2 separate regions of the Homo sapiens genome follow, and region 1 is linked to region 2. A link means that fine-mapping ties the variant in region 2 to the expression of a gene that starts in the linked region. Tissue or cell type: fibroblasts. Region 2 holds a variant in brackets; the other region holds the start of a gene. All regions are shown on one strand. Distances are between the middles of the regions.

Region 1 (4,398 bases), 120 kb before region 2:
GCCTGAGTGGAAACATATTGATAAACAATAGCATCAATGTATTATTAGTACAGCATCTGTGTGAGGCTGTGGAACACAGCATATTCTGCCTTATGCTTTATGGGTACTTATTTTCCACATTTCCTTTTTCTGAGAACTGCTTGAGGTCACGGATAATGCTTCTGTCTTTTTATAGAAATCACTTCCCCACCCAGACCTTAGTAATGTAGACAGTAGACATAAAACATATCATTACATACATGAATGGGCAAATGATAACCTGTATCATAGAATGTACAATACATCTGCCCTGGCATGTAACACTTTTAAAGAAAACTAAACATTGACATCCAACATATTAAATGCAACTTATGAAACACCAATGATGCATTTTTAAAGACTTAATCACAGTACGATGATTTAATGAAAAACAAGAAGAGAATGTTATATTTTATCGTTTCGTATCTCAGCAGTTTGGCACTGGATTCAGTTGATAGGAACAGCAACATGGCAAAAGTTGAAAGGAAACTGTTTGGCCTGGGTGATTTTTTGTCTTTCAGGCAGAGTAATGAGTAAATACAAAATCACCTCTGGTGAGACACAGTCCACTGGTGTTTATGTCATGTCATTTCATTAACTGACAAACAGAATTACTGCCTCTCCCTTCCCCAAACCTGCAAAAGAAAAAAAAAATTGAAGAGTATTTAGTTAACAAAAACAAATTTAACACTTGGAGTTAAAATGGCTCTAATAGTGACTGGTCATTTTGCCAATATGGGGCCAAAGATGTGAATATGGATGGAAGGTGTTTTGAGATGGAGTCGTTCTGTCACTCAGGCTGGAGTGCGGTGGAGTAATCTCGTAATCTCGGCTCATGGCAATCGCCGCCTCCCGGATTCCAGTGACTCTCCTGCCTCAGCCTCCCAAGTAGCTGGGACTACAGGCGTGCGCCACCAGGCCCAGCTAATTTTTGTATTTTTTAGTAGAAACTGGGTTTCACCGTGTTGGCCAGTATGGTCTCCAACTCCTGACCTCAAGTGATTCTCCTGCATCAGCCTCCCAGAATGCTGGTATTACAGGCGTTAAGTCACTGCGCCTGGCCCATACTGTTTACATTATCTTATCTGTTTTAGGTTTACATGTTATTTTTAATGTTCCTGTACATTTAAAAAATTGAAACCAAGAATCTTGACTGGCTCTGAAACTTAATTGGGAAAAATGTAAAGCACTTTAGTGGAATTTTTCCCATGATCTGTAGAATAGTTTTTAAACAGATGGTTCATATGGACAAAGCAATGAAAATGCAGAAATTAAAAGCAGATCCTTAAGAACAATATCCGAGTTCTCAGAAATCCTATAGATGATGTCAGGACGAGATGTAAAGCAGTCGTTTCTTTTGCTGTCAAGGTTTTAAGAGAACAGAAATTTATTAGGTGAACCTCCACCGGAGGAAGGATAAAGCCTGTGGGTAGGAGTTAACTATTTATTTCAAACTCCAGTCCACTTCAACAATTTGAAAATTTTCCCGCTCCTAGGACAATTCCATCCAGGTGCCAATAGGAGATACTACTATTGTGATGCAAATAGGTATTCTACTAGAAGTAGGAGCACGTAAGCAGAGTGAGGATGACTTGAAAAATCGTCCCACCTTCCCAGCTATGGAGTGGGGGCAGGGGGAAGAAACACCTCCAGGCTGGATCATTGAAGCTGAGGGGTGGGAGAGCGACGGGACAATTTTTCAACGTGGAATTCAAATGCATTCGGTGGGGAAGTGTGAAGTAAAATCTAAACGAACGCTAGACAGTAGTATCTTCCATCTACGCTTCAAAATACTCAGACTTTAGGGAAACTTAACGTTGGTTTTTCTCCCAGAGAATTGTAGGGAGTGGGTGGAGGGGACACTGTTAGGGGAGGTATATTGGGAGTCAGATCCTTTTGTGGAGCGAGGGACCCCGAAGTGTCACCAAGGGCTAGCCGAAACCAGGGGCCCAAGAGGGGACAGGGCTAACACCCCAGCCAAGGCCGGAGCGCAAGCGCGGGGCTGCAGCGCGGGGAGCCCTGGAGCCCAGTGCGGGCGGACGGGTGGGGCAGGAGGGCAAAGGGGCGAAGGGGCGGGGTGGCGCTGGGTGGGAGCGCGGCGGCGGGGAGGAGGGTCTGGGAGCCCGGGTGCGATTTGCAAGCGCTCTGAGCCTGCGTCCGCCGAGGGGGAGGGTTTCCCCAGCCCGGCCGGAGTTGCGGCTGTGCGCTGCTTCTGGCTCACAACGCCGACGACTGTCAAGAGAGTTGGGGAGTGGAACTGCCGGAAGTGTCTGCGCGCCGTGAGAGAAACTTTCCTGCTCCGGCCGCGGCCCGGAGCCTCGCCGCCCCCGCGTTCCGAACGACGATGCGTCCAGATGACAACAACCTGAGGGGACTCGCGCCTCGGCCCGCCGCCCGCGCCTGCGCTCGCCTAGCCTCGGGGGAGGAAGACTGAGCCCGGCGCAGGCGGCGCGGCGCTCGGGGCCCGTTTCCTCCGCGCAATCAGTCCCCTCGCGTCCCGGCGCCTTCCCCGCGATCGCGCGACCCCAGCGCCCGCCGCGGCCGCCGGCTGCCCCCGCCCTGACCTCCGGCCCGGACGTGTCCGCGGCCGCCGCTGGCAGCGCCTGTGCCATGGGGCTGCCCACTCTGGAGTTCAGCGATTCCTACTTGGACAGCCCAGATTTCAGGGAGCGCTTGCAGTGTCACGAGATTGAGCTGGAGCGAACCAACAAGTTCATCAAGGAGCTCATTAAGGACGGCTCTCTGCTCATTGGGGCGTTGAGGAGTAAGTAGGGCTGGCGGGGGAGTGGACACCCGCATCTGGAGAGTCCCCGCGGGGTGCGGGTCCGAAGGGTGGGTTGGAGGAGTCGGAGCTTCTTTTGTTTGAATGGATTTGGGGACAAAAGCTGAAGAGCTCCCCTGCTGGTGGCCAACAAAGTTTGTTCTTGAGGTGTTCTTTACTTACTCACATGTCTACAGGGATGGGGAAAGTTCTCTACAGGGCACTGGAATATATCCTGAGGAAAGTCGTTCAAAGTCATCTCGTTGTGTAATGCTCCTAGGAAGATGTTGGGGACTTTAATTTTTTTTTTTTAATTTATTGTGTCTATTAATAGTTTGAACTAAAAAAGCCCTTAAGGGGGGAATCAAGAGTTTGTCTTAAAGATAAAATTAGGCTAGTTTAGTGATATTGAAAGAAAATTATTAATGTCTCTCATACGTCAGTGGCTCTTCATTGGACACAGTCATTGAGTTGGCTTTTTAAAAAGCATACATTTGCAGTTTTGCCATTTTGTAAGATAATGGAAGACAGCAAGGCACCAGTGCATTTTAACTCTGCAAGTTTTCTGTGCGTCTTAGTTTTGGTTTGCATTGTGTGGGTGTTGGGTGTGTCATTGGGATGAAAGTTAAGGGGTTAAAGGCCAATCAGAACTTTTGATGATCTGTAGAATATAAAGACTGTTATAGTCTATAATATAGGGCTTCTTCCACCTCCTTTCCCATACACCTCTTGATCAAATTTTCCTTCCTCCTTTTATCCTCTGGATCTTAGCTTTCAATTCCTAAGACCTAAGAGTATCTGAAACTGAAGAGTTTCTCTTACAGAGAATTGAGCACAATTACATGATATGGCTTGTTACCTTTCCCAGGAGGTATTTGCATCTTTTAAAAAATTTATTTTTATTTATTTATGTATTTATTTATTTTCCATCTTCAAAGGAGCCTGTGAAAAGTATTTGCATCTTAATAGAGGCTTCTGGATGTTTTAGCTACTGAAATGAAGCCGTGGAATCTCTGGTCACTTAAAGCTGGGTGAGTGAGGTACTTTCAAAAGGTAGAGAGACCTTTGGGTGATCTAGTTACCCCCAGGACATATATGGGGGCATCATCTTTGTATAACAACATGATAGGGATGTGTGCGCCTAAAACTGAGACAATACTAGTATCGGATCTATATTTTGAAACATGTATTAACAGTAAGGAGAGAGCTTAGCAAGATGTCTTGAAATTAATGTGCTCCAAAATATCTTTTAATCATCCCAAATGTTAAAACATTTACTTAACCACTTGTGTTACTTAACCAAGGTAAAGATAATATATTTTATGCCCATATTCACTTAATTTCTGAATTTGAGGCTACTACTAATAATGGTATTTACTGTGATTTGTGAAAAATATAGTTTGTCTGCAATTCTTGCCACCCTACATAAACACTAATGTGAACTGTCCTTCCTCTGGCTTGCAAATCCTGGTTAAAGTCTCGCGGGACTAACCTCTTTGCATCTAAGAGAGCATGATGCCTCTTCAAAAAGAGCTGCATCTCAGAGTGTCAAATGCCAAGCCAGTTCTTGTTGGAGGTGCCAGATATTCTACATTTTTCTCCCCGCTCTGCTTGAGATA
Region 2 (4,398 bases):
CTCCCAAAGTGCTGGGATTACAGGCGTGAGCCACCGCGCCCGGCCAAATTCACTCTTAACTATAAAAAATAACTAGAAATCGGGTGTATTCTTTACTGACAATTTCTCCCAATGTAATACCTCATAAAATTATAGTAAATAGTTCATTACATTTTACTTGTTATAATAGTAATTAAAAATAACAAATTATTCATAAATGTTCCCTTTTTCCTGGAATCAGGATTCATAATTTGAAAAGCCTAACTCTTAGGGGTTCTTATCAAGATGCTATGTTACTTCATCCTGTGATTTATCTGTGTGTCACCCAGGATACTCATTTGCAAGTCAAACAGGAAATTGGTTGGAAAGACATTGGGGCATCTCATTTATCTGTGAGAGGGCCCACATTGCTTGTGGGATTAAGAAACAGCCAGAATCACAAACTCTAAGGCCTCTAAGAGGTTTTTTATCTTTGCCTCTCATTTGCTTATCGGCCTCATTCTGTTAGCTGGCTTCTTCCACATGGTGAGTCATAAGCATTGTACTAAAACTCACAGAAATTGTTTCTAGATAGGATTGTCTAGTTTTTCATTTTAAGACAAGATGAAGAAGAAAGAAAAAGAAAAAAAGAAAGGTAGGAGAGGCTCTGATTGGCCCAGCTAAGGTCACTTAAAGACGCTTGACCAATTACCCAAGGTTAAAGGGACAGAATATGTTGCATAGACTTTCCTTTGAATATAGAGCTATTTTCAGAAACAAAGGAATTATTATGAGTTAGGCAATCACTCCAACTCTTGTCTATTGTAATATGGCAATGACCTTGAGAAATTTCCGGTTAACATTGTCATTTGAACAGAATACTATGATAGTTGTGTATGAAATTTTACAAGACTTAGAAACATGTTAATTCACTCAAACATTAGAAACATTTACTTAAAAATTAGGAGTCACACAAAGATGTACACTATTACTGTTTAAATTCAAAATTGTTTTGGAGGGCCTCTAGTCTGTTCAGTAATATGAAACCAGAGGCAGGCTGGGTGTGCTGTGTTACTCCTGTAATCCCAGCATTTTGGGAGGCCAAGGTGGGTGGATCGCATGAGCCCAGAAGTTTGAGACCAGCCTGAGCAACATAGTGAAACCCTGTTTCTGCAAAAAATACAAAAATTAGCTGGGCATGGTATCACAGCTACTTGGGAGGCTGAGGTGGGAAGATCACTTGAGCCCAGGAGGCGGAAGTTGCAGTGAGCCAAAATTGTGCCACTGCACTCGAGCCTGGGTGACAGAGCAAGACTCTGTCTCCAAAAAAAAAAGAGAAGCCAGAGGCATAAAAATCTAAGACTTAAAATGAAAGAAACAAAATTGTCATATTATGATATGATTTTCCACATAGAAAATTGCAAATAATCTATAAATTATTAGAGATAAATAAGAGAGGTTAGCTAGGTTAATAGATGTAAATTAATTATATTTCTGAACAGAACCTTTAAAAAGTGGCAAAAAAATAAGAGACTCAAGGATAACTAAACAAAGGATGTGCAGGACTTACATGTGTAAAATTAAAAAAAAATATAAAGATAGTAAAGGGGAACTAAATAAACAGAAAACCAATCAATGAGTCAGTTCAAAAGAATGGTTTTAACCAACATTCTTTTTTCCCCTGACTATACTAGACAAGATAATTTACTGTAATAATTCAACTGATAGCAATTTGGTTAACTTGTTTTTACTAGTGTAGTGGTTAACCACCGGCTGGTCCTGAAGCTAGTGTATTTCCTTTTTTCATTTGGAAAATGTGGCCACCGTATGAAAACCTTACCTTTTTTACATTCCAAACTTCT[G/A]CCAAACCTTTGTATCTTTCACATATTTTCAACAGCAGATACACTGCTATTTGAAAAATGAAAAATGATGTACTCTTCATTTGCATAACCATATCTAACTGCCTTGGTGGAAAAAAAACTGTGCTACGTAGTAGTTGCTTTATTTCTATTGAGGGAAAATAAAATATCCCCTCCCATCTGAGACTTTTAATTCTATTCACTTTACATTTTACCTACAGAATTATTTCTATTACCACAGGTAACAGAATACTATGTAAGTGATGCAAATAAAATAACATGTGTTTTCAGGATCAGCAGGAAACCAGAACACAAACTGGGAAAGTCTAGGTCCTAATTAATTATTGACATCTAGTAAAGTTTTAAGCTCCTTGAGACTTTGTTTTCTTTTTTTATAAATGAGGAGTGTTCAGCATTTCCCAAAGTGTAAAATGAAAACCACCAGCAATAAAATGAACATTTTATTTATTTATTTATTTTATTTATTTTGGTGGGGAGGGACAGAGTCTCACTGTGTTACCCCGGCTGGAGTGCAGTGGTGCAACCTTGGCTCACCGCAACTTCCGCCTCCTGGGTTCAAGTGATTCTCCTGCCTCAGCCTCTTCAGTAGCTGGCATTACAGGCATGCGCCACCACGCCCAGCTAATTTTTGTATTTTAAGTAGAGATGGGGTTTGACCATGTTGGCCAGGCTGGTCTCAAAGTCCTGACCTCAGGTGATCCGCCCACCTCAGCCTCCCAAAGTGCTAGGATGATAGGCGCGAGCTACCATGCCTGGCCAGAATAAACATTTTAAATGTTAGTAGTTCCATATTTATTTCAATGTGTATTGGATACAGAACAACTCTGGATTTAATGAAAATTGTTGCTTTGTAGGATGCTTAGTAAAAGAAGTAAATCCATTTATAAGGAAAAATGTAGGACATGGCCATGGCCAAAATCACGGAAGTAGAATGTGAATGACTAGAGTTTGGGAATTCATGGAGTAGGTGATCTATGTTGCTTCTGCCTCGAATGTCTTGACTTTCTTTTTTTTTTTTTTCTTTGGAGATGGAGTCTTGCTCTGTTACCCAGACTGGAGTGCAGTGGTGTGATCTCGGCTCACTTCAACTCCCCCGGGCTCAAGTGATTCTTCTGCCTTAGCCTCCTGAGTAGCTAGGATTATAGGAGTGCACCACCACGCCTGGTTAAGTTCCATATTTTTAATAGAGATGGGGTTTCATCATGTTAGCCAGGCTAGTTTCAAACTCCTGACCTCAAGTGATCCGCCTGCCTCGGCCTCCCAAAGTGCTGGGATTATAGGCATGAGCCACTGAGCCCAGCCCGGATGTCTTGATTTGATTGTCTTCTGTGACTGTATACTTTGCTGAACAGTGTCAATGATTAGCCCTGAGTTCACTACCTCATTTATGGAGCTTACACTTAAAAACTGCTGCCAAAAACTGATTTCTTTTCAATTTCTTTTTTAAAACAATTTTTTAATGTTATATTTTTATTGCTTTTCATAGAGATGGGGTCTCTCCCCATGTTGCCCAGGCTGGTGTTAAACTCCTGGGCTCAAATAATCCTCCCACCTAGGCCTCCCAAAGTGCTAGGATTACAGATATGAGCCACCGTGCCTGTCCCTCTCTTCAGTTTCTTATGAATGAATGAGCCTTCATATAGTGAACACATTAATAATAGGTTCAGCCAGGTTCTGCTTATATCTTTTGCTTAAAGACACAAGCTGTAAACTGTAGGATTTGGAAAACTTTATAGCAAAGCGGATGGTGGACCATAGCATAGTTTCATTTTTATTTACAAAACAGACGAAATTTATGGGATTTTATACCCAGAAGTAGTTGGAAAGGATAGCAATAATTTATTTTCAACAAATATTTATTAATCTCTTTCTCTGGGCTGGATATTGCTCCAGAGCTGAGAATACAACTCTGGTCAAAAAGAGCTTCTGCCTTCCAGTTGGCAGAAACAGACATAACAAAGAAGAAAGTCAAAATGTATTATCAGATGGTGATATATACTCTGGAAAAAGGGAGATAAACTAGGATAGGTAGCAGAGGGGGCTGTAGGTGAGTTTTTAATGTCAGGAAATCAAGGAAGGCCTCAGTGAGTAAATGTCATTTAAGCAGAGACCTGACAAAGAAAGAAGTCAGTCTTACAACTCTCTTGGGAAAATGCTTTTCAGGTTGCCCAGACAGCTTTACAGCAGCAAGTACAAAGGTCCTGAGGCTGGAAAGTGCTCGGACTGTTTGAGGAGGAGCATAGGCAAATATGGCTAAAGCACAGGAACAAATGGGAAAGTGGGAAGAGATAAAGTGTGGTTGATTGGGCGGGGGGATTATGAAGAATATGTAGGACTCTTTAGGCCTTGTAAGGAATTAGACTTTTGCTCTGTAGAAGGGTCTTTCAGCAGAAGTGTGACATGAACTGATTTAGGAATTTAAAGGACTACCCTAATTGTTATGCAGACTGTAGAGGACAAGACTGTGTGCTGAGCTCCCCTTAGGAGGCTGTTTTCGTTATTTCATTACTTAAAAGACAATGATAATTTGCACCAGGATGAAAGTAGTGGAAGTGGTAGA

Direction of the effects. Alleles are on the strand shown, and positions count from the first base shown. SD is a standard deviation of normalised expression in the study named.
In carriers of allele G in region 2, the expression in fibroblasts of the gene that starts at base 2,238 in region 1 tends to be lower than with A alone (small effect, 0.19 SD a copy in GTEx).

The links.
Region 1: it holds the start of ARHGAP42, and the variant in region 2 is fine-mapped to the expression of ARHGAP42 in fibroblasts (GTEx, PIP above 0.99).

The regions. Positions count from the first base shown.
Region 1 is chr11:100,685,051-100,689,448 of GRCh38, forward strand. It overlaps ARHGAP42 (Rho GTPase activating protein 42), which reads left to right and starts at 2,238. Exons shown (of 24, transcript NM_152432.4): 1 at 2,238-2,782. The coding sequence starts at 2,629. It overlaps ARHGAP42-AS1 (ARHGAP42 antisense RNA 1), which reads right to left and starts at 2,905. Exons shown (of 2, transcript NR_133571.1): 1 at 2,583-2,905; 2 at 1-653. RefSeq lists silencers at 1,608-1,902, 1,953-2,142, 2,443-2,612 and enhancers at 1,839-2,549, 2,263-2,312, 2,633-3,002.
Region 2 is chr11:100,808,660-100,813,057 of GRCh38, forward strand. The region is part of intron 3 of ARHGAP42 (Rho GTPase activating protein 42); the gene reads left to right. Among named protein-coding and RNA genes, the nearest start is that of ARHGAP42-AS1, 120 kb to the left of the region's middle. The variant G/A (reference allele first, on the strand shown) is at 1,821.